Regions from separate parts of the Homo sapiens genome. Here all the other regions are linked to region 2. The links come from fine-mapping of genetic effects on gene expression. A gene starts in region 2. Each other region holds a variant in brackets. All regions are shown on one strand. Distances are from middle to middle.

Region 1 (11,025 bases), 45 kb after region 2:
CCTTATAACCTTCTTCTTTGCCTTTTTCTTCTCTTCCTTTTTATTCTTTAAACATACATCTTTTGTTTTTTTCTTTTAATCTTCTGTCTTAAGCTTAGACTTTCTCACCTGACACCCATTTTCTCAGCATATGTTAGTGAAACGGGAGAGTTCCCTGATCCCTCACAGGACTTATGACAGAGGTGTCGCTCATGTGCTCAGCCACTACAGGCTCGAACTCCTTTCGGGAGGGCGAGCACACGGATGGGCGGGGGCAAGAGCTGGGGCGGGGCGAGTGCTTTTGGGCTCCAGCCCCAGTAGCGTTTAGGGGTGTGTTACAATTAATGCTCTTTTAGTAGTTGCCATTTGTGGACGGCTAAGTGTTAAACCAGCTCAGTAGAGAGTCAGGGTGACAGCCTTTTACACCCTGCCCTCTTGGTACCTGGATCCTTGTCCGGTGTATTAGTCTGTTTTCACACTGCTGATAAGACATACCGGAGACCAGGCAATTTACAAAAGAAAGAGGCTTATTGGACTCATAGTTCCACGTAGCTGGGCAGGCTTCACAATCATGGCAGAAGGTGAAAAGCGTATCTCACATGGCAGCAGGCAAGAGGAGAGAACTTGTGCAGGCAAACTCCCATTTTTAAAGCCATCTGATGTTGTGAGACTTACTATCATGAGAACAGCAGAGGAAAGACCCGCCCCCATGATTCAATTATCTCCCACCAGGTCCCTCCCACAACACGGAATTATGGGAGCTACAAGATGAGATTTGAGTGGGGACACAGAGCCAAACCATATCATCCAGCGTCCAGGAAGATTCAGGTCACTCAGACTTGAAGGATGGTGAGTGCAGGGATTTTATTGGGTGATAGAAGTAGCTCTCAGTGGGATGGATGGGGAGCTGGAAAGAGGATGGAATGGGAAGGTGATATTCCCCCAGAGTTTGGCTGCCCCACAGCCGATCTCCTCTCTGACTGTCCCCAGCTGAACTCCTGTTGATGTTCAGACGCTCCTTCTCTTCTCTTCTTCTATGCCATGCCACTCTGCTGCTCTGTCGTTCTGCTACTCTTCTGTTCCTCTGCTCGTGGAGCTTGGGGTTTATGTGGGCACAGAATAGGGGCATGGCAGGCCAGAGTGGTCTTAGAAAAGGCAACATTTGGGCGTGAAAACAGGGATGCCTGTTCCCATTTAGGTCCATGGGTTTCCAGGCTTGAGGGTGGGGCCTTTGCCAGGGAACTGCCCTCTTCTACCTAGTATTTCCTCGCCTCCTGCCCATATCATTAGCATTTTTAATAATTTTACATTGACCTTGAGCAGAATCACTTAACTTTCATTTTCTGATTGGCATTTTCTAAGGGTCTTGTAACTCCAAATTTCAGCAAATCTTCTTTCGTACTCAGTACTTGTTCAGTGCTCAAGTGTTGGTACGTAGGTAGAGGTAAGCTGCTGTTGGTGTCTACCCAGTTTCCCTCACTCATAGGAGCCACCTCCACTCACCCACATCCCTTGAGGCTCTGGGATGATGTCAGTCACAGTATTCTGCCTGCCCTCTTGCTGCAGCCATAACCACGTGACCCGGACCTGGCCAGTCGTGGCCAGTCATAGCACACCATTTCCCTGCCTACAGAGGGGTTCAAAGTCTTAGGTTCCTAACTCAAGGAGAGGTGCCAGGACCCAACTCCACTGCCAGATAAAGAAAGCCTGTCTGTGTTTGAAGAGAATGAAACCAACACACAAAGAAAAGTATAAAAAGCAGAGCCAAGATATAGAAATATTTCTACTACAGCATTTTAGTACTTGGATTTAGCAGTACCTTTGGATTCACCTTCAGCCTTTTGAGTCAGAAGAGATGAACAGATTTGCTTTTTTAAAAGTTATTTTGAGATGATTTATTTCATAATAGAGTCTTACACAATGTCTAATAGTATATCAAACCAAATGCTATGCAATTGCATGAAATAAAAGGCTAACTCGCATTAATCTTGATGAGACTCAAGTCTTTTATGTATATTACTTCATACAAAATTGGTAAATAAAGGAATGATATTGGTACATTGGTATAATATGGAAATTGCATGGATTCATACACAATTTTTCTCAGCACATTGTTTTAAAGCAATTAGGGCAAGATTTCTTATAATTAATGAGAAAGCTTTAAAGATATATGAAAACATTTTGGAAAAAAAGCTGAAAATCTGCAGAAGTTTATTCTTTATTGGGAAAAAAAGCCTCATTTAGTAGCTTTAGGGACCTTCAGTAATTTTCATTCAGTTAAGCTATCTGGAACAGGCATGGATAAAGACACTAAGAAGATATTTCTAGTTATATAAAACAATGGATTAGGAAGCCTACAGACTGGATACGATTTTAAAATTTGATGAAAATTGAATTTTTTAAAAGCAAATGCCTTCTAATACTTACATCTTAAAGGAGGAAGCACAAGTCTAGGAAATTATAAGGAAGCAAATGATTAACAGCCATGAAAACTAGAAGAAAGCTAACTGTGGTAACATTTTTATTAGTAATATTTTTATTGGTATTCTGGTTACATAGTTCATAAGTTTTTAGTGTCTTCCTGAACCTTGTCTACTCCATTTGCCTTATTATTTTTGGTACAGCATAGATTTTTCAGGAACACTTATATGGCGTTAGAGCAGCAGTCCCCAACCTTCTCGTCACCAGGACCAGTTTTGTAGAAGACAATTTTTCCACAGATGGGGGCAGGGGGAGTGGTTTCAGTATGAAACCGTTCCACCTCAGATCATCAAGCATTAGATTCCCATAATGAGTGCACAACCTAGATCCCTCACATGTGCAGTTCACAATAGGGTTCCCACTCCTATGAGAATCTAATGCCACCAGTGATCTGGCATGAGGCGGAGCTCAGCGGGTAATGCTCGCTTGCCTGCTGCTCACCTCCTGCTGTGTGGCCCGGTTCCTAACAGGCCACAGACCAGTACAGGTCCACGGCCTGGAGGTTGGGAACCCCTGTGTTAAAGCATTTATATTACATTTATATACACCCATACTCGTTCTGAAAAGGATTGAGAATCTCTGAAGATACAGAGAGGAAAATCAAACTGTGTTTTCATTCTCTCACTCAACAACACAGAAAACTTCTGTGACCTCTGGTTACCAAGATGGATGTCGGGGATTTTTCCCCACCAGCAACCAATTCTGCAGCAGACACCATCTGCTGGGTGTCCTCCGATCCAATTTCAACAATATCTAACTGGAAACAGCATCAGATTCCACAGGTTGAAGGTTGAGTCCCAGAAGGCTGCCCTCCACTTCCAATGCCTATTGCAAGCCCCAGATTGTGACCTATGCTTCTGACTGACCTGCTGATAAATTGGGATATCCACCATTCCCTCCTTGGGTTTAATTAGCCTGCTGCAGTGGCTCACAGAACTCAGGGAAACATGTTTACCCGTTTACTATAAAGGATATTACAAAGAGCACAGATGAAGACATGCATAGGGCAAGGCACAGGGGAATCACGTGCAGAGCTTTCATATCCTCTCCAGGCATGCCATCCTCTAGAAGCCTATACTTGTTCAGGTATCTGGAAGTTTATCCAAACTCTGTCCTTTTGGGCTTTTATGGGTGCTTTATTATGTAGGCGTGATTGATTAAATTGTTGGCCACTGGTAATCAACTCAACCTTCAGCCCCTTTTTCCCTCCCTGGAGGTTAGGAAGTGAGGCTGAAAGTTTCAACCCTCTAATCCTGCCTTGGTCTTTCTGGTGACCAGCCCCCATCCTGAAGCTACCTGGAGACTGCCAGCCGTCAATCATTATCATACAAAAAGACACATCACTTTGAAGAGTCCAAGGATTTTTAGGAGTTGTATACCAGGAAACCTGAGACAAAGATAAAATATATATTTCACAACATAGGATAAGATAATATTAAAATTTACATAATAAGATGTGGGAGAAAAGGGAAAGAAAGGAAGAAATAGAAATACAGATATTAAAGTTGAAGGGTGAGATTAAAGCTAAAACAAAATTAAAGCCATGTGTTGGTAGATAAACTATTCAGATTTTGTGCCAAATAAAGTGGCAATTCCTTAACAAACCAGTTTATTACTATTACTATTTATCTCATGCTGAACAGTGTCATTGTCTGGGGTAAATATCCGAGATTCATTGTCTCATGGTCATGGAAAACTAGGACATGGACACACAAAGAGTGAGGTTCAGAGCGGAAGTTTAGTAGGTGAAAGAAAGAGAAGTGGGTTGTCACTTCTGTGGTGAAGTGCAGGAGGTTTTATAGATGACCTATATTGAGTAGGCGGTGTTTGATTTACATGGGGCATGAAAGATTGGTCAGACCAGGTGTGCCATTTGCATAGCACATGAAAATCTGGCTGCCCCCCACCTCCACACTAATATTTTATTATGCAGATAGATTCTCTACCTGGCCGGCGCCATGTTGCCTGTTCCTTTACTGCACATGTGGCCACAAAGAAAAGGGAAGATGGAGCCTCCATGCTGAACATGCCTGGGCCTGGGTAGCCCTTTTCTATTGGCAGAACTGCTGGCATTCACTGTGCAAGTTTCCAGCTTGCTTATCAATGTCTGCAGTTCAATTTTTCAGGCTTATTTTTGTTAGAAATTATTTGGGGGCTCCTTTTTGTTAAAAGGGGAATCTTGCTGAGGAGTCTTGTGCCCTCATTATCTGCCTAATTTCTTTCTAGCTCCTGTATCGATGCTAACAGGTTGGCTATTTGGGGTTAGATTTAAAAATAAGAGCATAAATTTGGTAGGAGAATTTAAATATTTTTACTCCTTTGGTTAACAAGAGATATGGTAGAGAAATTATTTAGATCTGTGAAAACTCTTATTTCCACTTTTTTTATTGATTTTTCAGCCTAAATTCATGTGTGTAATAAACATGTATATTTAACACGATTTTAAAAATTCAAACTGTACATATTCAAAATCTAAAATATATCCTTACAGTAATTTTTCCTCCCACCCTGTTCTGGTCACCCACTTCCTCTCTTTGGAGGCAACCACAGTATCAATTTCTTGCACATCCCTTCACAGATGGTCTATGCAAATATAAAAATATATCTACACATATCTGCCTTGGACACAAGGATTCACCACCCAGATCCCTTTTCATGGGAGGACTTATTGCTTCAACTCTTAGGAGTGCCGTCAGCCCCATTCAGAGATCTCAGCTGCAGATTTGCTTACCCAAGGCCATGCCCTTCCCAGGGAAGCCCATATCCAGTGACTGAGGGAGCAGGAATATGAGGACTCAGCCATTTCAGCCTGATGCTGGACATGTCTGATGTGCCAAATTTAGTTCCAGAGCTCTCCCTGGGGCAGCTGAGGCTCTCAGGCCTGTATCGCAGCTTGACTGCTCCTCAATTCGATCCTGCTTCTGCTTCCTCCCTTTCACAGGCAGGGCCACCAACAGCCCCGGTTTTCCTAGGACTGAGGGGGTTTCCAGGATGCTGTATTTTCAGCGCTAAAACTAAGGCTGTTTCAGGAAAACTGGGACAAAGGAGTCATCCTATCCACCTGCGTTGATACCAAGGACATCACCTAATAGTGACATCCTGCATACTAAACTTTCTCTCAGAGGCTGCTTCCTGGGGAACCTCAGCCTGTGACAGTCAGTAGCAAGAGTGGTCTAAGAAAGTAGGTGATAAGATAGCTTTGGAGCTGAATATCTTACCACCAAGTTGACACTGAGGACCCCATCTAGAGGTGGGTGGGGTAGATAGCCCCTGGCATAAGGTGATGGTCCAATTATTGAAACTTTCACCAGTGGTGAAGTGGGATAGCACACTAAGGAAGAGAAAACACCA[A/G]TACACACCATATATCAGGCATTTGAAAATTATGGAGGAAATAGTCACAACAATGACAGTGGGAGTGGATGATTACTGTGATTGTTGCTTTGTTAAAGATAATGAAAGGCTGAGAGTGATTAATGGGCAATTAAAAGTGAAGAGTGGAAGCAAGAGGGCTTCCTTGATAGCCAAGAGATTCTTCTGCAGTAGGAAAGCAGAGAAAGCTGAAGAACAGGCTCAGGTTTTAATCATCAGAATACCTGAGATTCAGAATGTTATACTCCCAACTAAGGCAGGTCTACCATGACAAGGCCAAGGCCCTTTTTGGGAAAAAATAGGACTCTGACACAAGGGATGGGGAAACCAGCATTGATGGCTCTGAAAATCTTTAATGCTCAGATTCTTGCACTTCCCAAACCTGCAAAAGTGAATTCCCTCCCTGTTAAGAGCTAGCACCCCTTCCTTGCCTCTCCAGCTCAGGGCAACATGTAATGTCCCCAGCATCTGTTTTCACTTTCCCTTCTGGCCACTAGGTGCATAACGAGGGTTAAGTCACAGAATAACCCAGCCAGGGTTGCGCTAGGTCTGACAAGAAAGGAAAGAGTCCCCAAAGAAGCTGCAATGCCTAACTAGCAGGTACCAGCAGGCACCACGGGAGGTCCATGGAAATGAACCCCAAGAGTGCTCAATCAAGAAAGCTGGGACATAAGGCTGGTTATGAAAGAGTTTATTTATTTTTCTAAAATACAAGATTTAACACTTAGGCTAGGATCCCAGCAGGTGGGCCCAACCTGCTACATAGATGGCTCCTAGAAGTGTGGCAAAAGCAAGGACCCATGCTGAGTGAAACTAAGATATAAGAATTTCCATAGCACATGGTGGAAGAATAGATTAAAAGATGTAGGGAAGTGGGCAGGCTGGAGTGGATGTACAGTGTAAGGCCAGATAGCACACTAGATTATTACAGTTCATGGGAAGGCCTGGACATGCTATTTATCAAGGCTACAGAAAGCATTGGTGAAAGGGATCCCAGCATTACTAAGTATCCCAGGTGAAAGTAGGAGAGATCATTACATCATTCAGCTTACAGGTACGAATGGTGATAAGACCCCAAAACAATAGAAATCAATAGACACCTGTCAGCAGCTTTTCACCATCAAAAACCAGGTGATACAATTATTTCATAATGAGTGGTAAGATCAAAATCACAGCCAAGGGGGCCTCATCTGCAGAATTATATAGATGATTAAAACAACACAGCTTCAGGTTGGGCACGGTGGCTCATGCCTGTAATCCCAGCACTTTGGGAGAGGTCAGGAGTTCGAGACCAGCCTGGCAAACATGGTAAAACCCCTGTCTCTACTAAAAATACAAAAATTAGCCAAGCATGGTGGTGCATGCCTGTAGTTCCAGCTACTCAGGAGGCTGAGGCAGAAGAATTGCTTGAACCTAGGAGGCAGTGGTTGCAGTGAGCAAAGATAGTGCCACTACACTCCAGCCTGGGTGACAGAGTGAGATTCTGTCTCAAAAAAAAAAAAAAAACAACCCCAGCATCCACAGGACCAAAACAGAGAGACAGTCAACAAAGGCACCCCAAAATAAACCTTACAAATATTCAGAGGCCTGGCACTCAACTTGTACCTTGAGAAGAAATCAAGACTAGATGATCAGGAGGCTGAGTGCAGTCACCCCAATAAAAACACAATCTCTTATCCAGTTTTGTGACCTCAATTGTTATAGGGACCCAGAACCCACTGATGAAAAGAGAGGATAGTCTCCAGATAAAATGACTTTGCAACACCATGGCAACGCAAGAGATATTGATTCAGTCCTCTCCCCAAGGGGCCTATGTATAACTCTACATTGGGGGCAGAGGGAATACCCAAGCATGTGATTACTGTTGGACGTAGAATATGAGGTGATATTGATAGCTGGAGACCTGAAATGTCATCTTGATCCTCCCTATTACAAGATAATCATATGAGACCAGTTTACAAGTGGACTATTGACTGAGGTCTAGCTCACAGTGGGCCTACCTACTGATCATTTCCAAATATATAATTGGAATAGACATAGTTGATAGATGGTGCAGCTCCCACATTGAATCCTTGGCCTGTCAGGTAAAAGCAGCCTATCATAGCAGAGAAGGCCAAGTAGCAGCCTTTGAAATTTCCATCTACTCCCACCTTGCCCCCAGCCAAGCTACTAAATACAAAACAAATTCATATCCTGGGAGGGATGACAGAAATTAATGCTACCCTTAAGCATCTAAAGGAGGCCAGAGTAGAGATCCTCATTTTATCTCCACTTAATTCACCAGTCTGGACCCCTCCAGAAATTAGATGGATCTCCTGGAGCATGAGAGTAGACTACACAAACACAGCTGTAGCTGCTGTGCCAGATGTGGCACCTGTGCTAGAGCAGGTGAACATGGCTTTGGGTACACAGCATGGAGCCAGCCATTTCTATCAGAAAAAAAGATCAGAAGCCAGGTGTAGTGGCTCACACTTACAGTCCCCACTGCTCAGGAGGCTGAGGCAGGAGTATCACGTGAGCCCAGGAGTTAGAAGCCACAGTGAGCTATGATTGTACCACTGAACTCCAGCCTGGGCTATAGAGCTAGATCCTGTCTCTTAAAAAAGAAAAGACCAGAAACAGTTTAGTTTCATGTGAAATAGGCAACAGAGCTATAGTTTTCTCCAGGGCTGTGTTAGTTCTCACTCTTGTAATATAGTCTGAGGAAATTTGGGCTTTCTGAGTATCTCGCTGGACCTCATATTGATCCACTACATTGATGACATGGCGCTAAATGGCTGAATGATCAAGAACCAGCTAGCATCTGCTCCAGAGGTGGGAGGTAAGCCCTAGGAAGATTCAGAAGCTCAACATCAGCGAAAATTTTAAAGATCCAATGATGATGGGCATGCTAGCATATCCCACCCAAAGTGAAAGACAGATATTACATCTTGCGCTCCCCATTAGGAAAAAGGAAGCACAATTCCTTGTAGACCTCTTTAGGTTCTGAAGTCAGCACATTTCACACTTGGGAATGCGGCTCCGGTCCATGTGCTGGGTGTCTTGAAAATTACCATCATTGAGGGAACCCAGAGCAGAAAAGGGTTCTACAGTAACTCCTGAACATTTGAGCCAGTGACCCAGAAGACCGTATGATGTTTGAGTACCGGTGGTGGGAAAATATGTCATGTTAGTTTATGGTGAGTCCCAGTGGGACAATCGTTATGCAGATCCCAGATTTCTGGAACAAAGCCATGCCATCTGCAAGGAAGAATTATTTGCCTTTTGAAAAACTCTAGTGTGCTACTGGGCCGTAATAAATATGGAACTTGCCTCTGAGATACCAAGGGTGATGGTTAATTTTATATGCCAACTTGGCCCGGCGACAATGTCCAGATATTTGGGCAAACATCAGTCTAGATGTTGCTTTGAAGCTATTTTTTAGATATGATGGACACTTAAATCAGTAGACTTTGAGTAAAGCAGATTACCCCCATAATATGGGTGGGCCTCATCCAATCAGTTGAAGACCTTAAGGGAAAAGTTGGAGGTCCCCTGAGGAGGAAGAAATTCTGCATTCACACTGTCTTTGGATTTAAGATTGCACAAGATTGCAACATCAGCTTTTCCGTGTGTTTCTGAGAGCCTGCCGGCCTGCTCTGTAAATTCTGGTGGTGCCTGCTCACACAGTCACATGAGCCAATTCCTTACAATAAATCTCTCTATTTCCCCACTCTGTCTGTGTGTGTGTGTGTGTCCATCTATGGGTCTGTTTCTCTGGAGAACCCTAACTAATGCACCAAGTGACCCTGCATCCAGAACACGCATCATCATGAACTGGGTTTTGTCAAACCCAGTGGTCCCCAATCTTTTTGGCACCATGGGCCAGTTTCATGGAAGCCAATTTTCCCACAGATGGGGTGAGGGGGATGGTTTCAGGATGATGCAAGTGTATTACATTTATTGTGCACTTTATTTCCATTATTATTCCATTGCAATATATAATAAAATAATGGTACGACTCACCATAATGTAGAATTGGCAGGAGCCCTGAGCTACTAGATGCAACTAGATGGTCCCATCTGGGGGTGATGGGAGACAGTGACACATCATCAGGCATTAGATTCTCATAAGGAACATGCAACCTAGATCCCTTGCATGCACAGTTCACAATAGGGTTCACACTCCTATGAGAACCTAATGCCGCTGCTGATCTGACAGGAGGTGGAGCTCAGGAGGTAATGCAAGCAGTATGTAGTGCAAGCCAAAAATGGTCAGCAGCTGCTCTACACATCCCCTCAGGGGTGGCCTTGAAAGATAGTGGTCAGGGAAAAATTCTTCCAATGGAAAGAGTTCAAGAGATGAATCTGGTCACCCACTTTGTATGGACGAAAGAAATGGCCCAAAGTTATAGATTCATTGGCAGTGGCAAATGGCCTGGCTGGCTGATCAGGGGCCTAGAAGAAGAAAGATTGGGAAATTGGAATCAAATTGTCTTAGGGTAGAAAGTGTGAGAATAGATATTATAGCAAGCGTGAAGTACGAAGATCTTTGATCACATGTTAATGCCCACCAGGAAGCACATAGTACAGAAATAGTATGAAGCAATTAGGTGGGCAGGGTGACTCAGCAGGTAGAGGTCATCCAGCCTCTAAGGCTCTCTCTGTTCATTCTTCCCACAAGAAGTCATTTGATTATTTCAGACTAAGCAAATGCTCAGTGAACCACACCCCTGGTAATTACGGACAACCACCAACTTTGGCATTTACAGCCAAGTTTCATGGAAATATCTGAGCACTCAAAGCAGGAGGAGGCAGCCAGGAGACAGATCTGGAGGCCCTGCTAGGATTGTGACTCTTCACAACTATGTGCTCATTCTTCTTCCATGCCTACACTTCACCTGGAATTAACTCTTCCCTGGGCAGCTAACACTAGCATGCATTGACCCAAATGAATGTGGTGGTATTGTCACCCCCAGATGAGCTACTAGTTGCTTCAGATCCAACCATCTTTTATCCATGTCTACTTAGCAAGGACTCCAACCAGAGGCTGCACTGGGACCCTCTCAAAGAAGCTCAAACCCATATCATTGGAAGGAGTCAGGCTGCCATTTTCCTCTGTAGAAGGTCTATATCCCAGCTTGGTAATAAAGCCACCTCCATTGGGGAAACATGAGAGAGTCCAGCTGGTGTGGTAGCCCCAGTAAATTGCTGAAAC
Region 2 (11,025 bases):
TCAAAGGAGAATATCAATCTTATCAGTGTATAAGCACTTAATAAGAACCAGGCCTAAAAGAGTATCCGTGTTTTGGCAGAAATACCATACCATTAACTCTATCAAAGAAGTTCCCTCTCTCCTGGTTATAGCACTGCTGTCAAAAACTCAGATGCCTACAAAAAACAGGCAGGTGAGAGAAGAGGACTAGCATCTTCAGGTTTTTTCTTTAGATTCTGACATCCTTTATTTTCATATTAAATGGATAAGCATTTTCCTCCTTTACACATATACACAATATCTGCTTTCTCCCATTTTTCTTGGTCTTTTGTCTTCTGCCTTCCGTAGAGATAAGAGTACAAGAAAAAAAAATGACAACTAGAGGTGATGCAAATACCAAGGGACATTCAGCCTTGCTAAGATGTAATACAGAGTAGGCGGCATAGTGACAAAGTAGGAAGCAATTTCCTACCTAAAAAGAACAATCATTACTCAGTGTTAGATAATTGTCACCACATAGGATTTAACTATCAATTTTAAAGAGAGAACAAAAATCTAGATTTCTCTGTAAAGTCTCCTGATTTTAAAATTTTGCCATAAGTTTTTCTGCTAAAACAATGTGGGTCAGTTCCCTGGCTGCCAACTTGGAATCCTACTGTAGGCTCTAGTGTTCTTTTATAACTTCCTAGATTACTAGCTTCCTTAGATATGTTTATTGAACATCTATAATATGTATTGCCTATAATTATATACTAGGCAAATCGCCACCAAGATTGAACCTCAGTTACTTTTCTATTCACAGGTTATTTTAAATTCAACATGTTATTCTTCAGAGACAACTTAAAACCAATACTATTAATTAACATCTTACCAATTATATTCCAAATCATGCTACCTACTCTGAAAGGACCACAATTTAAACTCTCTGAAGTTAACTGTCTAGAGTAGGTTGAAAAACTGTTTACAGATGCTGTGTCAATTATATAATGATCACTCTGGTCTCTGGGTCTTTGTTTCTGCTGTTCCTTCAGCCTGTAAGGGCTGTCACCTCTTCCTCTAAGAAGCTGCCTTATATATTATTTCCTGATCATTTCAAACTTACCCCCTCTGAGCTTACTGTATACACTATTGAAATCATACCTTTATTGTTTATGTCCCCAAAGAGACTACAAATACCTTAAGGATCAGCCCTATATAGAATTTTGGATTGCATGTCCAGGAGCTAAGTATGATTAAATGTGCCATGTGGCAAATACTGAGAATCTGTTTGATTCAGCTGGCCACTACTTCCCAAGCAGGGTACCATGTGCCTGGCACCTAATAGATGCTAATTTCTTCACTCATTCTTCAATAATGTAAGTGGTAAAAAAGATAGTCTCTGCATTCTCAATAAATCTGTTGAGAGAATGATACAAATTAAAGATTTGTTAAACAAATTAATATATGTATATAAATATATACATGCACTTCAGTTCATCAACACAGTTACATGTCTTTAGGAGACTCAATTTCTCTAAGCCTTGGTGTTTTTGTCCAACTAAATGCAGATGATGCCAACTTTACTAGGTTATGTGAGAAGTGAATGAGAAATTCTAGAAAGTGCTAAGAAAATGGCATATGTCATAGCTCATAAAAATGCTGCCAGCACCTCTTAAGGAAATTAAAACTCCAAAGGTAGTTCCGACTGACAAATTTTTAAAGATATTTGTGTGAAAGACGAAACAGTTCAATAAATGTACTTAATTTATATAGTTTACAGTAATCCAAATAGTTGTTTAGTTTTATAAAACTACAGTTTCTACCAAGCTCAGAGAAAAAACACCACCGTAAATTCACAGTTTGTAAAACAAATAGTTCAAGGATTGCCACGTGTTTTCGGCATGGCAAAACAAAAATCTGTATGTAGGTGAAAGTCAGAAGCGGATATATTTTGGCTCGGTATTAGGAAAAAAGTCCAACACTTCCAAATACTTAGTATTTCCAAATACTTTCCACAGCTTCACATGCAGAATGCCATGCCTCAAAAGGTTCACGTCCTAATACCCAGAACCTATGAATATGCTGTTACATGGCAAGAGGGAATTAAGGTTAAAGATGGAATTAAGGTTTCTACTCAACCTTGAGATGGGGAAAATATTCAGGATCATCCAGATGAGCCCAATGTAATCACAAGGGTCCTTGTAAGTGGCAGAAGGCAGAGGGGAGTATTAAGAGTGACGTAATGTGATAAAGACTGAACCAGCCATTGCTGACTTTGAAGCCCATGAGTCAAAGAATCTTAGAAACCTCTAGAATCTGGAAAACTTAAGGGAATGGGGTCTCGAGCCTCCAGAAAAGAATGCAGCTCCTACCAATAGCTTGATTTTAGCCTAGTTAGATCCATTTTGGACTTCGGACCTCTAGAACTATGAGATGTGAATTTGTGTTGTTTTAAGCCACTAATTTCTGGTAATTTGTTGCAGCAGCACTAGAAAACTAATTTGGCTTTCCTTGAGATGCCATGCCTTCTTCCTGACAGATGGTATTCAAACTGGGGTAGACAAGTTGTTCATGGTATATGTCTAGGGGATAGGGAATAGGTAAAAAAGCATCATGAGGATGCAGATAAGGATTGCTTGCCTAACTGAGTTTCTAAAGGCATTAAACTGGGCCTATGTATACTTTTTTTTTTTTTTCTCCTGAGACAGGGTCTCACTCTGTCACCCAGGCTAAAGTGCAGCGGCAGGATCATAGCTCAATGAAACGTCTAACTCCTGGGTTCAACGGATCCTCCTGCCTCAGCCCCTGGAGTAGCTGGGATGCCAGCACGCCTGGCTTTTTTTCTTTCTTTTTTTTTTTTTAAGTAGAGACGGGGGTCTCACTTTGTTGCCCGGGCTGGTCTCCAACTCCTGGGCTCTAGCAATCTTCCAGCTTCGCCTCCCAAAGTGCTGGGATTACAGGCGTGAGCCACTACGTGCACATTTTTGTGTGTGACCATTTATGGTACTTCCTCTGTACAGAGAGTCTGTAACATTTTCAAAGATTCTCAAAAGGATCTGCTTGATAAACAAGATTAAGAGCACTCTTCCTAGATTATATCCAATACTAAACTTTTAATATTCCATGATTTTCTAAGGCAGTGAGTCTCAAAGCTCATTCCATTAAATGTCAAAATAAAACATCAAAACTCATCCAACATTTGTAAAATGCAGATTCCTGAGCCCCACACCAGACCAGACCGAATCTCTAGGAGCTGGAAAAAAGTTTAATTTCAACAAACTTGGAGGAGGGAAGAGAAGGAATTCTGCACACACTGTTAAAGCACCTCTGCTCCAAGGAATATGTTATGAAACATTACACCAAAAATGAAATAAATTGTTCCCATTAAGGAACCTTTAGGAACCCCAATACACTCATCTTACCATATGACTTTGTGTGATTTTTTTTTTCTGAGCCTAAGGTAGCTCAGAATATGAAGGCAACGTCTACTAGACCTATTTAAATTAAAATTCATTCTGTAGAGTGCCAGGAACGATGATTGGCAGGTAATACGTCACACTAAAAAACGTCAGTCCTATTCTCCATCCCCGCCTCCCTCCAACCTTCTCCCAAAATAAGGAAAAATAATACCCGGCCTGCCATTTTGCATACTGTTAAATACTGCAAGAATTGTGTTAACTGCATCAATATCATTACTAAACAACAATTTTCTATAATAAATTTTTGGTATGATTTATCTCCTAAATGTTTGCTCTTTCAAGCGAATATTTGCTTGAAACATTCTCCTGGACCTTTGTCTATCGTGATGCCGTAGGAATTTACAAATTTAAGTCTTCCACGAGTCATGGCGTGGGGTAAAACTCGACTGGCCTCAATGAAAACACCTCCTAACAGAGAGAGGCCTAGAGAATAAGTAAGAACTCCCAACAGTGGCTTTTCAATCTCGGCAACCTTGGGCAGCTTTTTCTCGTCCGAGACGTTTGACAACCCTAAAGAAACCTGAGCCTTGATTGGAAAGGGGGCTGAGGGAGGAGAGTTTGGGAACCCTCTCTGCGCCTCACAAATAACCCAAATTCCAAGGCAAGGTCACAAAGCCATACAAACCAGGGGGCCTAGGGCAGAGTCGAGTTCTCTCAGCTGCCAAGAAAGCCCTTCACAGCATGCATTAGGCCAAGTCGGCGGACCCCAACCGGAGAAAGAGGAAAGGGAATAAGGAGCCCGCGCACCTTCACACCCAAAAGCAGGCCCTCAATCATAACTGCCCCTGTCCCAGGCCCATCACTCAGCTACACAGAGAAGCTGAGCGAGCCCCGGCCACTCACCCCGAAGCCACTGCGTGCTGTGAAACCATCTCCAATTAGCTCCGCGGCTTACAGACCACCCAAGAGCCCCCTTCACCAGCCCTACGCTTCGGCGGCCGGGGAAGCCCACAAGATAACGCAGCAGCCGCGGATCACAGCCCAGCCTCCAGGAGGCCGCCATCTTGACGGCCTTCTCACTGGCTGCCCGCAGCACAGCCTGATGTCCAGCATCAAGGCCCCGCCTCCCGCATGGTTGGCCACGCCCCCAGACGCTAGCGGTGCCTTTAGGTCTCTCAGACTTGAACCCCCGCCCCCCAACCCAGCCCCGCCTCCAACCACGTTGGCCTTGCCTCCCGGGAAGTCAGGTGCGCCGCTGGATATCTCAGCCGGCGGGGCCTTACCAGACCCCGGCCCCCGCCCCGTTCGCCCCGCCCCCGGGCTGCCCTCAGCGCCGCCTGATTGCATTTGCGGCCTCGCTGCCGTATCCCAGGCTAAGCGCCGCGCGCAAAGCCGTGCGGAGATTGGAGGCCGCGCGGGTCCCTGGTCTGGGCCATGTCTGGCTGTGATGCTCGGGAGGGAGACTGTTGTTCCCGGAGATGCGGCGCGCAGGTAGGGGCGGGGCCACCGGTGCCCGGTATTCCCAGGAGGAGAGGCCCAGGCGGGACCCGGCGGCTGGAGCTGGGCGCAGGGTAGCGGGCCGGGCGTTTAGCTGCGGGGCGGGGTTTCGGGCCTGGCCGTTCGCTACCCCGGCGCACCGCGACCTTGGCGTTCGGAAGCAAGGCTGCGAGGCCCCAGGAGATCAGTGGTCTCGGGCGGGGCGCTCCGATGGCGGGAGCTGGGCGCCAAACGTTGGAAAGAAGCAAATAACTGAGAGAGGAGAGCGTTTAGGTGACCTCACCGGGTATTTATCAGGAAGGCAGGCCAGAGAAGGAATCGTGAAGCACCGAAGTGGAGCTGGGGCGAAGACCGCGCCCCCCAAGCTTCTTTTCTGCGCCCTGACGACCAGTTAGGCGTTTGGGGGGACGTTTGGCACTCGGGAGACGTTTGCCGAACCGGAGCTGTGCCTCAGCTGCCAGCGCTTTGCCTTTGAGCAGTTGCTCCTTGCCTATCTCCGTTTAGATGAATTGTGGGATGATCATGGGAACGATTCTTCCTTAAGCCGAAGTCAAAGGGAAATCCACCCTCACGCTGCATGTAGTTTTCGGTCATTTACACAAACCAACAGTTTTATGGAGCGCCTTCTACACGCTCAGAGATAGGGATACGTAAGATAAATGGCCCAGGGTCTGGAGAACTAGACGAATAAGCAGTTTCAGCACAATATGATAAACCCCACCTAAGAGGCAGGGAAACCCCTCAAAATTAGTTTCCTTATTCCCCCTATCTTATTCCTCCTATCTATATCTTTCTTAGGGTTGAAAATCCTAATTAAAAAGTAGTAACTCGCGGGAGATTTCATTGCTAAACATTTGTCAACCACTTTCTTGTTTGAATAAGTGACTTCCCCAAATTAGCAAAGACGACTCTGAAAATAGAATGCTGCATAGGCAAGATTGGATGAGAGAGAGAAGATCTTGGAGACAGGACAGGTAACTGGAGATCGTTCCTGGGCAAGTGTGTATGGAGAAGTGTCCGTACCCTCAATCAGTAAATCTTAGTGTAATGTCATCAGAATGAGCATCAAAGAGAGCCTTAAGGGACCCGAGAATAAACTAGGATTCTCAAACCAAACATGGCCCACAGACAGCTTGGTGGACAGGCATGTTTTTTTTTTGCTGCACTCAATGTTCATGAAAAATTTGAGCCAACCTTTTTTTTTTTTTTTTTTTTTTTTTGACACGTTTTGCTCTTGTTGCCCAGGCTGGAGTGCAGTGGCGTGATCTCAGCTCACTGCAACTTCTGCCTCCTTGGTTCAAGCGATTTTCCTGCCTCAGCCTCCCAAGTAGCTGGGATTACAGGCGCATGTCACCACACCCAGTTAATTTTTGTATTTTTAGTAGAGACTGGGTTTCACCATGTTGGCCAGGCTGGTCTCGAACTCGTTATCTCAGGTGATCCACCCCCCTAAGCTGCCCAAAGTGCTGGGATTACAGGTGTAAGCCACCACGCCCTGCCAAGCCAACATTTCAAAATCCAGAATCATTTCAGCTTCTTTTAAAACCTCAGAACACATGGTGACATTGGGCCCTTATTTTTTCATGGGATCTGGATTGCGGTTACTAGTGAACACCACCTTTACAGAGGGTGCTGGCCAGGTTACCACAGCTTCCACTACTCACACTGGATTTGCATATCTAGTTAAATACATGAGCCCCTCTAGATATTTGTATTTGTCTGGTTTTGTACAAATACATAAAAACAGCAATAAGAAAAGTTTTAAGAAGTCATAAAATTTCATTGTAGTTTTAGGGGGTCATGGGCAATGGAAAGAGACAGTCTCTTTGGCCTTAAGGAAGGGGAATGTTCAACTGTAAGTGATTAATTCAACGAATATTTAGTGAGCGCCTACTATGTGCCAGGCATTGTGGATTTATAAGTGCAAGCTGCATCTGGTTCCTTCTCCCCTAGAACATGCTGTACAGTGGAAGAGACAAATTAGCAAAGAGACAAAGATGGTATGACAACATGACATAGTTTGACATATGACGATATGACTTAGATGGGAAAGTTCAAGGTAGTTTAGGAGTATACACTTGAATGGGTTAGAGAATACCTCAGGAAACAGTGAAAGTATCTACTGAGGCCTAAAGGATCAGGAAGACATAACCACATGCAATGAAAGTAAGGATATTCCAAGTAGGGGAAGTAGCATGTACACAATCTCAGGGTTGTCCTTGATTACAGACATGGTGTGTTCCCATATTAAGTTTGGTGTTCTGGAACATAAAGTAGGGGCCAGAGACTTGAGATGAAGCTAAAGAGAAAAGCTAGTGAGAGGTAAAGCCGCTGGGCTTCTGGGTCGGATGGGGACTTGGAGAACTTTTCTGTCTAGCTAAAGGATTGTAAATGCACCAATCGGCGCTCTGTGTCTAGCTAAAGGTTTGTAAACCCACCAATCAGCTCTTTGTAAAATGGACCAATCAGCAGGATGTGGGTGGGGCCAAATAAGGGAATAAAAGCTGGCCACCAGAGCCAGCAGCGGCAACCCCCCTCGGTCACCTTCCAGGCTGTGGAAGCTTTGTTTTTTCGCTCTTCACAATAAATCTTGCTGCTGCTCACTCTATGGGTCCGCACTACCTTTATGAGCTGTAACACTCCCTGCGAAGGTCTGCGGCTTCATTCCTGAAGTCAGCGAGACCATGAACCCACCGGGAGGAACGAACAACCTGCGTGCCACCTTTAAGAGCTGTAACACTCACTGTGAAAGTCTGCAGCTTCACTCCTGAAGTCAGCAAGACCACGAACCCACCAGAAGGAAGAAACTCTGAACATCTGAACGAACAAACTCCGTACACACCATCTTTAAGAACTGTAACACTCACCGCAAGGGTCCGCGGCTTCATTCTTGAAGTCAGTGAGACCAAGAACCCACGGGAAGGAACCAATTCTGGACAAACTAGGACCAGACCTAAAGGGCCTGTTAAGCAAATCTTAGATTTTTAAACTAAGGGCAATGAGATAATCAGCAGGATGACTGAAGAAGGCCTGGGGATTGCTGGCTAGAGTTAAAAAGACCAGAGGCATGGAGACAGACTAGGAAGCCGTGGCAGGCATCCAAGCAAGAGATGCTGTAGGTCTGAGTGAGGGAGTAAAATCAGGAGGTCTTGGTTATTGATTAGATGTGTGTAGTGAGAAAAGAAGTCAAGAATGACTTTTAGGCTTCTGATCTAGTGATTGGGGCCTGGTGGTCCACCAGAAAGAGAATACAGGAGGAAGAAACAGTTTATGATGGGTGTGTTGTGGACATGTTGAGTTTGAGGTACAGCCTCAGCATGTGGTACTATACACTGAGTGTATTTAGCAGGGTTCTCTAGAGGGACAGAACTAATGGAATATATATATAAAGGGAAGTTTATTAAGCATTAACTCACGTGAACCCAAGATCCCGCAATAGGCCGTTTGCAGGCTGAGGAGCGAGGAGAGCCAGTCTGAGTTCCAAAACTGAAGAACTTGGAGTCCAGTGTTCAAGTCGGGAAGCATCCAGCACGGGAGAAAGATGTAGGCTAGGCCAGTCTCCCTTTTCACATTTTTCTGCCTGCTTGTATTCTAGCCATGCTGGCAGCTGATTAGATTGTGCTCATCCAGATTAAGGGTGGGCCTGCCTTTCCCAGCCCACTGACTCAAAATGTTAATCCTCCTTTGGCAGCACCCTCACAGACACACCTAGGATCAATACTTTGTATCCTTCAATCCAGTCAAGTTGACACTCAGTATTAACCATCACACTGGGTATTGCTTTCAAGCTAGGAGAGAGAACTGGATTGGAGATAAAGATTTGGAAGACTTGCTCACCAAAACCTTCGCTCTCAAGACCTGTGTATTTATATTATTCTGTCTTTGATAGACACTCTTTTCTGAACACATATTATAAAAGATATTATATATCTTTTCTGAACACTCTGTAGCCCATTCAATAATTTTTATTATCATTTGCAGTAACATCCCCAAGTGACTTATGTTTCATGTACTTTCTTCTTGTATTCTAAAGATTCTTCAGGCATCAAGTGTATTATTTTCGGGTCAGACTCAGCTTATGACAATAATCTCTGACCTGGTTTTACAGCTCTGAAATTAAATCCCTACTGACTGGCCCTTGAACTGATTTTTTCTAACATCAGCAAAAGTCAAGGAGTGTTTCCCTAAAAAAGAAAGCATTTACTCAGAAACCGTATATTGAAGTCCAGGCTGAAAAATGCAAACATGAGTAAGTTGTTCCTATTTTTCAGAAACTTGGGCAGTTGCAAATGCATATTTATAATTAATATATACCAGTAATGGGCAGTGGGGCATGGGGGGAAAGGATGAAGTTCCATTAGGGGATGACAAAGTATTTTGCAAGTATAGAGGGAGGGGAAGGTCATTTCATACAGTGACTCATGGAAGACTTCATGGAGAATATGGCATTTTAGATTGGCCAGATGGAAACCAAAAAGAAGATACTAGGGCCAGCATATGCCCTGTTTTAAGAGGTAGCACTACACAACACTGATCGTTTTTGCTATGTGGGAGTATTATGGGCCCATTGTTTAGTTTTGCTTTTTTAAGGGAAACTGGAAACTCAGATTTTATATGAAATCTCTTGATTTTAAAATTTAGGCTCAGACTCTTTCTAAGCATTGCGTAGACCAAATAAACAACTTCCTGTGAGCCTGAAGCAGTCCACAAAATACCATAACCTCTGATACAGGACTTTTTTTAATGTAAGAGATATGATGTTAATGCAACCAACGTTTATTGAGCAAAGCACTGTGGTAGGTATAGCTATACCAAGAGCCCATTCTCTGCTTAGTTGCAGAGAAAAACCAGGTAGGGACTACTTCTATTTTTTTAATTTTACCTTAACTATCACAGTGTCCTATATATGTTGACACTGAACAAATATTTTTTCTTTGATATTTCTGCAGCACAAGTACATCCAGTACCTTGCCCTTTTTTTTTCCTTGACCTCATCACTGCTGTTCATCTTTACCGCCCCCTCACTCTAACATCCCATTCCCATGGTCATATCCTTCTCTGCCCAACCCCTACCCTTTTACCATACACTTTTTTGGGTATATTCAACTATATGAATTAGTGTGTCTACAAGTATTCTGGTGTCTTACTGCAGCTGGCCTCTGAGTAGCATGTGACAGTCCTCTGGGGAGTTTCCTTTTACATTCCCCTAAGTAGCTGTTCCAGAACCTCATCATTTCACCTCATCCTTTACCCCACACCTGTTTCAAAGGTGACCTTGCCTCCAAAATCACAAAGAAACTGAAAGCTATTAGGTGTGAACTTCTTAATGTCTTCCTCTTTCCACATGCAGTATAATGTAAAGGTTAAGGACCAGGATCTAGAATCAGACTGCCTGGGTTCAAATTCTGGCTCTGCCTCTTGCTATCTTGGTGGCCTTGGACAAGTTACTTAATCTCTCTTAGTACAATAGGGTTGTTATAAGGATAAAGTAAAGTATTCCATATAAAGGCTTTAGAAAAATGCCTGGCACAAAATAAGCACTCTATAAAGAAATGTTAGCAATTCTTATTATCAGTGGTATTATTACATATTTAATATTACATTGTTAATATTATTACATACTTACCTGCATCTTTACCTTTCCTCCCATTCCTGTTTTTCTAATGCCAGCTTCTCTATCTCGACAAAGGCTGACCTCTTAGACCTCTGCTTTCCTGTATGTTTAATCTTTCCCTGTCTCCTCATGTTACCCGTTAGCATGTAACAGAAAACTGTCTTAATTAACCAGTTTTTCCCTTCTTTTTCCCTGTCTAGCCCTTCTTTATAGCAACACTATTGAAAGAGTCATTAGAACTCCATGCCTCCAAGTTTCATTTACTTCTAAATGAAAGTGAGTGAAGCTCACTGCGATCTTGCTTCCACACCCAGTCTATTGAAACAGTTGTTACTTAAGGTCGTGGTTGACCTAATTTACATATGGAGTTGGCCTAGCCAAACCTTTAGCCAGGATGAACCCTGCCACCCATTTCTTTGGGCTGGCATTGAGCAGCTGAACATTGCTGGAGAATATTGCACAACTTTGTTGTCTGGCCTTGCTTCATGATTTCAACCTCAAATCGTCACTTACTGCTGCCCAACAGCCCATCTTTGT
Region 3 (11,025 bases), 30 kb before region 2:
GACCCAGCCATCCCATTACTGGGTATATACCCAAAGGACTATAAATCATGCTGCTATAAAGACACATGCACATGTATGTTTACTGCGGCACTATTCACAATAGCAAAGACTTGGAACCAACCCAAATGTCCAACAATGATAGACTGGATTAAGAAAATGTGGCACATATACACCATGGAATACTATGCAGCCATAAAAAATGATGAGTTCATGTCCTTTGTAGGGACATGGATGAAACTGGAAATCATCATTCTCAGTAAACTATCACAAGGACAAAAAACCAAACACCGAATGTTCTCACTCGTAGATGGGAATTGAACAATGAGAACACATGGACACAGGAAAGGGAACATCACACTCTGGGGACTGTTGTGGGGTGGGGGGAAGGGGGAGGGATAGCATTAGGAGATATACCTAATGCTAAATGACGAGTTAATGGGTGCAGCACACCAGCATGGCACATGTATACATATGTAACTAACCTGCACATTGTGCACATGTACCATAAAACTTAAAGTATAATAATAATAATAATAATAAAATAAATAAATAAATAAACAAACATTAAAAAAAGAAAAAATTAGAGTTGAGAATATCTTCCATTTAATAGAACTGCTCTGAGCTCTGAGAGGCTATTTTCTCAATTAAAAATATCACGGTCTAGACAGAAGAATCATTTGAAGCCTCTACAACTTCAAATTTCAACCATAAACTTTCAAACCATTAAAAGGCAACTTTGAATGGGATTGTGGGCAACTTAATGAAAAAATAAGGGTGGGGAAGGGGTATCTAACGAATACAGTAATATTTAAAAATGTATTCTTTAGAAAAATACCAATGACAGTATTTGAGTGAGATAAAGTGAAGAAACCAACTGAAGAAGGTGAATAGTACCGAGAATAATTATTCTGCTATTTTTAGTATTCAGATGATCAATTAAAAAACCATTTTTTTAAAAAAAATTTGTTTTAATATCCATGGATGCTATTTTTTAGAAAAAATTCTACTTTTGAAAATTGTTTTGAATAATGGTCTATCAATAAAAATCTATCAATAAATATATTGCTAGTCAATAAATACATTGCAAACATTACATAAATGTAAATAATTTTGACATCTTATACCCTTTTCATCCTCACAAATATCCTAATTGGTGTGCCAAATTATATAGCAACCCCAAATACACTGGAAGCCAAATTAGAGAACCTCTAATAAACCCTCCAAATATGTCATCCTAAGATTCTACTTTATTAATTTATCATTTAAAACAGCTGCTGTTCAATTTGCTAAATACTAACTTTAAGAATAAGCTGATGAACTGATCTTTAAATGTATAATAACTGAAGTATTTTTGTATCAAAATTTACTAGTTTTGACAGGGCATGGTGGTTCACGCCTATAATCCTAGCACTTTGGGAGGCCAAGGTGGGCAGATTACTTGAGTCAGGAGTTCAAAACCAGCCTGACCAAATTGGAGAAACCCGTCTCTACTAAAAATACAAAATTAGCTGAGTGTGGTGGCACATGCCTGTAATCTCAGCTACTTGGGAGGCTGAGGCAGGAAAATCATTTCAACCCAGGAGGCGGAGGTTGTGATGAGCCAAGATCGTGTCCAGCCTGGGCAACAAGAGCAAAACTCCATCTCAAACAAAAACAAAAACAAAAACAAAAAACAGAAGAAAAAAAGATTTACTAGTTTGTCCCTGATAAAATTGCAACATCTTGTTGTGAAGAGACTCCCAAATATTATCCAAAAAGCATGTGGAATAATAATAAAGCCACAAAGGCCTAAAATATACAGTCTTTTCTTTGGCAAGAAAATAGCTGTGCCACCAAAGCCACTATCAACTATATGCACTCCCACTCCCAACCTTTTTCAGAGCATAGGGGCCAGATGAATTGGCACTGCTGACCCACTGACATGGTTAGCAATTTGAAATGTATTACTAAGCAGCTAAGTGGAAAAATGCTATCAATTCTGGAAGATTTCCACAGCCAAACAATCCAGAATTGGGGCCAAGAACACAGTTTGCCAAAAGCACACATAATAAAATGTAGCTGGGTTTATTACATGGTAATTCAAGCAATCTGTTTCAATATGCTGCATAAATTAGTCAAGAAAACTATTTTTGGTATGAATATTTATATTTTCCTAGTTACAAATGTACAGAAATTTTAGGCTTTGATTCATATTCCTACAAGGAAGTTAACTGTATTATCAACATGTTTCAACCTGGAATGTTATATCTAGTATCTAATATGAGAGATGACAAGTAAAGGAGTTTGACATATTCGAAGTTAAAAATACAACATAAGTGGCTAAAAAAAAAAAAAAAAGGAAAAGAGGATTTTCTAGAAAGAAAAACAAATAAAAAATTGTCTCTAGATTTGCACCTAGTTAGAGTATAGCATTCTGAAGTGTAGTCTTTGAATAGAATATACAAAGGAAGGTGTTACATCTATGCTCAAAGCAGAGGTAAGCTGGTGGCTCAGAAATAAAAACACATCCACAAGGGACTGCTAATAGACATGCAGCTCATCTGTACAAATTGAACTCCAGAGGCACAAATGGATACTTATTATCCAGTTGCAACCAACCAATACAAATTATTAGGCAAACATACAGACTGACTTGGGGACTAATGGTCACCAAGAGCTGAGGAAACAGTTCTAATAATGGGAAAAGTAACATTTATTGAGCAATTGGGTAACAGGTCTTGAGATGAGCATATATGTACTCTCTCAATCTTCCCTACTGTCCTATGAAGTAGGTATTATTATCATCTCTACTTTAACATGAAGAAAAAGGCACAGGGGATGAAGAATTTGCTTATCATTACGTAACTAATAACTGGCAGAACTTTTTAGATATAACATGAATCAGTCAGCGGGGTGATTCCAGAGTCCACAGTCTTAGATGCTCCACCATACTACCTAGTAAAGGTTCTGGAAGTTAAGAAACAAACACGCTGGTTGGCTCAATCAGGGAATATACCACACAATGCTAAATAGTCATGTTTCTACCATATGTAGCTCTACGCATTTTATTTCACTTACTTTTCACATAAGCTCTAATATTCCATTATAAAAATAACGCACATTACAGAAAATTTAGAAAATACAGAAAAATAGGCTATTAGACCTTAACTCTAAAACATTTTAAACACTTGAACTAAAAATGTATTATGTAGTAGACAATACACATTAAAAATAAGGAGGCAAAAATAAAAGGTAATTTTACTACAATGAACTTTCCACTCAAGAAATCTTCATCCTGTTGAAGAAAATTAAAATAAAAACTTACCACGATTTTGGCCAAGATTCCATCATCACTTGCATCTAAGGTAACCACAGCTTTGTCAGTCTCAATTTCACATAATGCATCTCCAGCACTCACCGCTTCACCTACAAAACAAGACTGGGTTTGTTTTGTTTTTTAAAATATAAATATTACTATGTATATATGTACGTATGAATAAAACATAAATAAATACCAAAATATTCCGTAGCTATTTCTGGGTTGTGGAAATACAAGTAATTCTCATTATGTGTGGGTGTTTGTGTGTGTGTGTGTATGTGTATGCTTTGCTGTAATTTCCAAAAGCTCTATAATGGACATAAATTATACTTGTGATAATAAAAAAGCTATTACAAAGATTACTGAGCATGTAAAAATGAAATCAACCTTAAAGACATCAGCAACAAATGTGTATCCACCTCTGAACAAATCAATTCCAGACTCCATATCCCCCTTACTTTTTCAAACATTTTGACTATATTCCCTGAAGAAAAGTTTTACAATTAACAGTACTTCTGGGTTCACATCTTAGGGCAAGTTCAAAAAACCTGTTGGCAGCACACAGTATAAATGAATAAAGCATATAAAGCATAAAAAGAGAAAATCAAAGACACAACTGAAGTCAAATACAGATCATTTCTCTGCAACAGAAAATATCTGGAAACTCAAAAATATGGAGGAAGACCTGAAGTTCCAGGCTTACTAGCTTCTGGATTTAGGAGCAGGTTTGGAGCAAACAGGGGAAAAGAGGTACAACAGTTTCCTTTGGGGATTAAAGGGAACTAAAAGTAGTCTGTTGGATATAGGGGACTCAAATCAGATTCACTATTTGGAGCTAGGGCTAAGTCAGGGTTCTTCTACTCATAATGTGAGGCTGATAAAATGCACAATCAAAACCTGTTGACTGAGACTATGATTTTAATCAGCAACCATGGGTCTAGGAAGGTGGGGACCAGAATACTGCCTCAGTACCAGGAACAAAGTCAAGCCACCCTCTGGCTCCGGGGCTGTATCTGCCAATATCCCCAATATCAATTGCAAAATTCCTTGGATGGTGGCAAGGATCGAGGGGGGACTGCGTAGGAGGGAAGACATTAAAACATAAACTTTCCACTTAAAAGTAAATTGCACAAGAAAGTTCTGAGACACACGAAGAAATCAAAAGCTAAGAAAGCAAGCCACAAAATCAGTAATTGTAACAAAAATTCTTTTCAGAAGCAATTTATTTAGTGCAATCTGTCAAAGATTGTAAAATAAGTACTTGAGGACATCCAAAAACATAAATGAAAGTAAAAGAGCCATCACAAGAACAAGAAATTAAAAAAAAATGGTATCAGGTAGAAATAAAAAAACGAATTAGAAATCTTAAAAATGAAAAATTAAGTAATTGAAATAAAAAGAAACAACAGAATATATTCTAGACAGGGAATAGTGAAGGTATGAATTAGTAAATTGAAAGGTAGCACTAATGAACTACGCAGAATTTCATACAGGCAGACAAAAAGATACAAACATTAAAAACAAAAAACAAAACAAAACGAAAAAACAGAAAAGAGCAGTTAAGTGACAAAGACTGAGGCTGCAATGTTTGCTAATGGAGTTCTGAGGGAAGACACTGGAGGCACTGGTGGAGAAGCAATACCTGAAGAATTAGTGGCTGAGAATTTCCCAGAACTGGAGATGTATACTCTCATCATCAAAGAGTTTTGAATGAATTTAGGATAGGTGTACTGACTAGCAGGGGGCATACGGATCTGTGTAGCTTGCTAAGAATGTTCTAAATCTTGATCTAGGTGGTGGTAACATGGGTATACATGTATACAAAATTTAA[T/C]TGAGCCTAAAGTTTATGCAAGTTATACCTTGATAAAAACTTAAACAGAAAAAAGAGTATTAGACTATATAAACATGAATCCATATTAGATACAATGTAAAGAAACCGCATTCTATCAACGATAAAAACATAATCTTTTAAAAATCTATCAAAGGGGAAAAAAAACAGATTACCTCAATGGAAAGACTGAGAGTACACTTCTCAGCAGCTGCAACAGAGGTCAGAAAACAATGAAGTAATATCTTCAAAAAACTGAGGAAAAATAACTGTCTAGAATTTTGTATGCTGCCAAACCATCATTTGAGAATGAAAGAGAAGTATTCTTTAGATATATAAAGGCTAGGAAATTTTACCACCTATTAAAGATCTCTTTAAAAAGCTCTTACAAGATGCAGTTCATCAAGAAGAAAAGTGGAAGCAGATGGAACCCATGGGCTATAAGAAACAAGTTATTGTGAAAATTACTAAAATGTTAACTACTAGTATTTTTAAAGTAATGTTTGAGGGTTTAAAAAGTGTAAAACTCAAACTCTAAAAAATAATAAGATAGGTAAGGAAATGTTTAGATGGTAAGGCATGCTAACAACTTTGATATATTCAGCTGGTGCAAAAGTAATTTTATTTTTACCACCTTACTTTCAAAAACCCCAATTACTTTTGCATCAACTTATAATAGGAGAAAAATACTGAATAATACTAAACTTTATTGGCAAAATTTAATTTAAAATTTAAAAACAGAAATATAATCTACAGCATTAGAAAAACAGAGGAAAAATAAGAAGTTGATTATCTAACTGAGGGCAGGCACATGGAAAGAAAAGGCAAAGGATAAAAACAAAAATGCACAAAAAATGGTAGAAATAAGTCCCCATGTATCCGTAATCACAATAAATATAAATGGATTAAAATCACCCATTAAAAGTAGAGATTATCAAAATGGATATGAAAATAAAATCTAGGTAAATGTAGCTTACAAGAGATAGCCCTAACACAAAAACAGAATAAAAAACAAGGGGATAAAAAATATGTAACATATAAATACACCTCCTCACACACCAAAAATAGCTGGAATAGCAATATTAACAGGCAAGCATCATAAGAGAATATGAAAGAAAATCTAAAACACTAAATTAACAAATATGCTCTGAACGTTCACAGTACAGAAAGTACTTCATTGTGTACCAAGATGATCAAATTGATAGTTATATCTTCAGGTTAAATAGTTCAGAGACACTAATATAAGTTATTTTTAAAAATAAATTGATATGTTAGATGATATTTATTTACCACCTAAAAGGTCCTTTGTCTAACTCCAAAGAGATGTCCCTAGTCAACAAACATTTATTAAAAATGTATTGGGGTGGCCAGGCGTGTAGGCTCACACCTGTAATCCCATCACTTTGGGAGGCCGAGGTGGGTGGATCACCTGAGGCCAGGGGTTCAAGACCAGCCTGGCCAACATTGTGAAACCCCGTCCCTACTAAAAATACAAAAATTAGCCAGGAGAGGTGGCAGGCACCTGTGGTCCCAGCTACTCGGGAGGTTGAGGCAGAAGAATCACTTGAACCTGGGAGAAGGGGGTTGCAGTGAGTCAAGATCATGCCATTTCACTCCAGCCTGGGCAACAAGAGCAAAAACTCTGTCTAAAAAATAATAATAATTATATAAATATATTTTATATATATATACACACACACACACATATTTGTATTATATATTTATATATTACATATAAAATATATATACATATGTAGGCACTGAGGATACAGCAGTGGACAGTAATAACAGCAAAGATTTAAGATTCCTGACCTCAAGAAGCTTGCTTAATATCCATTGACAAGTAAACTGGAAAATACAGCAGGATAAGGTGAGGTCAGGATGCTTTGGGAATGTTCAGGAGGGGCATCTAATTCAGTTTTTGTAAGGTGAGAAAAGGCTTCCTAGAATACAATGACCACCTATTCTGAGCCTGAAGAGGTGAGGAGGAGACAATCTGTAAACAGGCAGTGATCCAGGTAGAAGGTAATACACTTATAGCCCTGGAGGCAGAGAGAACAGGAAACTTCAGAGAAACTGGCAAATAGTATGCGAGAGAAGTGACGAGAGATTAGGCTGGTAAGATATGCAGGAAGAGACCAAAAATGACCTTTGTATGTCATAGAGAAAGCTACAGTGTCAGATTATATCATCTTACATACTTCTTTAAATGTTTTAGTGGTTAAAACAGATTGCACTTCAAAAGGGAAAAAAAGCACACCCTCAAAGATTTCTGCTATAATCACGGGAAAAACTATAGAACTAGTAAACCCAGCAATTAAATACCTCTTAGATGCCTAGAAAACAGACTCTAGCCACAGAAAAACAAAATGATGCTATATCATCATTTGTGTTCATCAGTATTCAAATTCCAACCACACTTTAAGAACTACAGATTCGACTTCAGCTATATAACTTTCTCTGAGTAACTTGACCTACATAATTTTGTTCATATTCCAGATTCCTATAGTAGGTCTAATTTATTTAAAAATCACAAATTGCATATAAAATGTTATATTACTGCTAATTACTTTTTTAAATTGTGATTTCCTCTATTTACTAGACTATGAGCTTCTTCACAATACGGACAGGACACTTAAATGTTTTATATTCCCATCCCCATTCCTCAGGTTTCATGGCCAATGCACCATACCCAATGAATTTTAGATTAAAATGCTTTAGAAAAAAACATGATAACTTCACGAATCCTTATTTCCTCATAAGGTATACATCAAATTATCTTTTACATTTCTTTTGCTTCTAACATTTGATTTGTAGCATGCTTCTGATATTTAAAAAGATAGCCTTTTTTTCTTTTTTAAAAAACTATATCTATTCACATAACACAGACATATATGTTAGCTAGATGAGAATGCCAAGGGAGAGGGTAGAAGAGAAAAGCAGGAGGAGAGAGAAGGAAAAAAGGAGAGGACAAAAGAGAGGGAGGTAGGGAAAAGAAACACAGAACACTTTACCAATAAATCACAGGGAAGTTTTAAAAACATAGTAATATTACGTATGGAAGCATTACCCCTAACTCATCACAAAACCAAAGTTCTATCTTTCAATAATCAAACATCATGTAAATGCCAAAAGAAAACTCTGAGAGCAAATAATGAGCCATGAATATTTCAAATCTACTGAGTTTCAGCTGTGATCAAAAATTTAGTGCTATAACTTAGAAAGACTCCTTGGCAGAGTAGTTACAAGGAACCTCTCCTAATTCAAATATGAGTTTGATTCCAAGCTCTGACAGTTACTAGTGATCTTGACCAAGTTACTTAATCTCTCTGACTCTCAGGAAAATTTTAAATGTATAGATATATATTTTTTAAGTCATGGGGCTGGAAGTGTTAATGCTTCACATACATCTTTATGTAACACTTTACAACATCTCTAGGTAAAAATAAAATGTTAGCTATACAACCATTTTGAATCAAGACACATTTATTCCATATTCTGTCATGTCTACCTGAATCAAGATACGGTTTTTTTCCATATTCTGTCATTTCTACCAGAATCAGGACACATTTATTCCATATTCTGTCATTTCTACCAGATCATCCAACAAACATTAATGTATAAGGCACTGTACTAAGCACTGGGTATGAAAACAACAAAAAGAGAAGGTTCTGTCCACAAAGAGTTTAAAGTGGAGAAGAGTGGAAAAGACTCAGCAGCTAGGATAGAGGGTCCTGGACAGCGTGAGATGACAGATGGCTTCTCAGCTGTCAGGTTCATAGCTGACTGATTGAAGAAAGAGATGGCAGCCCTGGAGTGTTCCTGCACCATCTTCTCGTGGTCCATGGCAGTGGCGGAAGAGGAGCGGGCCCAGAGCGAGAGTGCGGGCCCCAGGAGGGGCCAGAGCAGAGGCCCACCCGGGGGCCGCTCCCCAGCACCGACGCCAGCATCATCGTCCTGTTCCTTTGTCCGATGGGCAGCTGCCAGAGCTGAGGACTGAAGTATACGGAGGCTTCCCTTTCTCTTTTTAAATTCTAGATATTAAGCATAGCCTTGGTCAAACACAGTTAATGGTGATGTTTATTTTATTAATAGAATAAGTCCTGAGGCTTTCACAAAATAATTTTGTTCTGCCAAAAATTAAGAATAAAAGTCTTTACGTAAAAGATGTGTGTGGTGGTGGTGGTGGAAGAGAGCTAGTTTTTATCTGTAAGACCAAGTTATCAGATTAACATGAACATTAAAGAAAAATTCCTCTTCTTAGTGCTATGTTGAACCATAATGATAACAATAATCAGAAACAAAAATAATTCAATTGTTGACTCTACAAGTATTTACTAGCTGCCCATGTGAATGACACTGTGTGCGACACTATGATAAAAATAGTAATAAAATAAGACAGAACTGCTTCAAGAAGTTCCTAATCTGATTGAAGAACAGTACAACAAGCAGGCAATGACAATCCCATCCAATTAGTACCTACAGCAGAATGGGAATGTAGAGGAGGGACCCCTAGTCAGTGTTTGTCATCCCTTTTCACTTCACACACACACAAAGAAGGATAATATTTGCATGGCCAAAGACCTGAGGCAACCTGGTTGCTAGGCCAGTTGAGGTCCTGCCCTATGGGGTGAAGGCATGAGTAGGAGAGTTTGAGAAGGGCCCAGTTAGACAAGGTCAACCACCCACACATCCCTCTGGCTTCTTAAAGTCTAGTAGCTACTGTATTCGACAGTTTAACACAGAACATTTCCATCACCACAGAAACTTCTATTGAATAAAACTATAATCTATAATTCCATTCACTAATTTAAAAATTCTGATATAATACAAAGATTTAGCAATAAATGTAAAAACGCATAATGATGGAATATAATTTAGTAACAAAAGGAATGAACAGCTGATAAATGCTACAACATGGATGAACCTTAATCATGCTAAATCTGAAAAAATCTAGTCACAAAAGACCAAACATTACATGCTTCTATTTATATGAAACATAGACAAAAGGCAAAACTTTAGAGACAAAAAACAGATCCGGATTGTCTAGGGATAGAGATGGGAGGAAAAAAATGACTGCAATCAGGCAGCAGGGATCTTTTTTGGGGTGACAGAAATGTGTTCTAAAACTGGATTGTGGTGATGGCTGCACAACTCCATATATTTATTAAAAATCATTGAATACTTAAAATAGGTAAATGTTATGGTATGTAAATTATACCTCAATAAAGCTGTGAAAACCATAGTACACCAAAAAAAGGAAGCTATTTGTGAAATGGACTTTTCAAAATTTTCCATTTTAGCACCACAAACATATACATATTGCCAGAAATAACGGAACCAAAGTGTCTTCTATAGTAGAATCCAGAGACCCATATAACTCTCTAGTGGCATCTAGTGATATAGGATAAGGCTTTCTTCAAAATGGTTTTATTTCTGAATTTTATACAGTAACAGTATATTAGACAAAAACTATTTGAAATACAAAAAAATCCCTTGTCTCATGACATAAGGAATACCGCAGCAACAAGCACCACTGTTAAGCATGCTTACTACGTACATTCTAGGCACTGTGGGTGTGGCTAAGTGCTTGATGGAATTATCTTAGCCTGGTTTTGTTCCATAGTGCTTCACGGCAGAGCAGAAAAATCTCAAATATTCTGAGGAAAAAAAACAAGGTTTTTCATAACCTCAAATATTCTCTTACAAAAGGAGAACAAGAATTTTTTTTCCTTTCTGTTATTTTAACAGATTTGACAGTTCAATTGATGAAAAAATAAACTAGGTGCAGTTTAAACTGAAAATATCTGAAGCACATGCCCCCTCCAAATAAAAAACTTGTAATAAAAATGCCAAATGATAGCTCAATTGACCTTTCAAAAGATTTTGAAATTGTGGG

Direction of the effects. Positions count from the first base shown, and alleles are read on the strand shown. Sizes are in standard deviations (SD) of each study's normalised expression. Not every link is listed here.
For the expression in lymphoblastoid cells of the gene that starts at base 4,717 in region 2, allele C in region 3 goes with a lower level than allele T (moderate effect, 0.41 SD a copy in GTEx).

What was found. PIP is the estimated chance that this variant, and not a neighbour inherited with it, causes the effect.
Region 1: its variant is fine-mapped to the expression of APIP in lymphoblastoid cells (GEUVADIS, PIP 0.92).
Region 3: its variant is fine-mapped to the expression of APIP in lymphoblastoid cells (GTEx, PIP above 0.99).

Annotation. Positions count from the first base shown.
Region 1 is chr11:34,864,970-34,875,994 of GRCh38, reverse strand. The region is part of intron 6 of LOC102723568 (a long non-coding RNA gene); the gene reads right to left. It overlaps LOC105376624 (a long non-coding RNA gene), which reads left to right and starts at 717. Exons shown (of 2, transcript XR_931185.2): 1 at 717-828. The variant A/G (reference allele first, on the strand shown) is at 5,812.
Region 2 is chr11:34,910,071-34,921,095 of GRCh38, reverse strand. It overlaps APIP (APAF1 interacting protein), which reads left to right and starts at 4,717. Exons shown (of 7, transcript NM_015957.4): 1 at 4,717-4,868. The coding sequence starts at 4,812. PDHX (pyruvate dehydrogenase complex component X) reads right to left here and starts at 4,478. Exons shown (of 11, transcript NM_003477.3): 1 at 4,281-4,478. The coding sequence starts at 4,440. RefSeq lists an enhancer at 4,177-4,476 and silencers at 4,647-4,696, 4,717-5,056.
Region 3 is chr11:34,939,886-34,950,910 of GRCh38, reverse strand. It overlaps PDHX (pyruvate dehydrogenase complex component X), which reads right to left. Exons shown (of 11, transcript NM_003477.3): 3 at 3,305-3,405. MIR1343 (microRNA 1343) reads right to left here and starts at 9,074; the gene lies at 8,991-9,074. The variant T/C (reference allele first, on the strand shown) is at 5,130.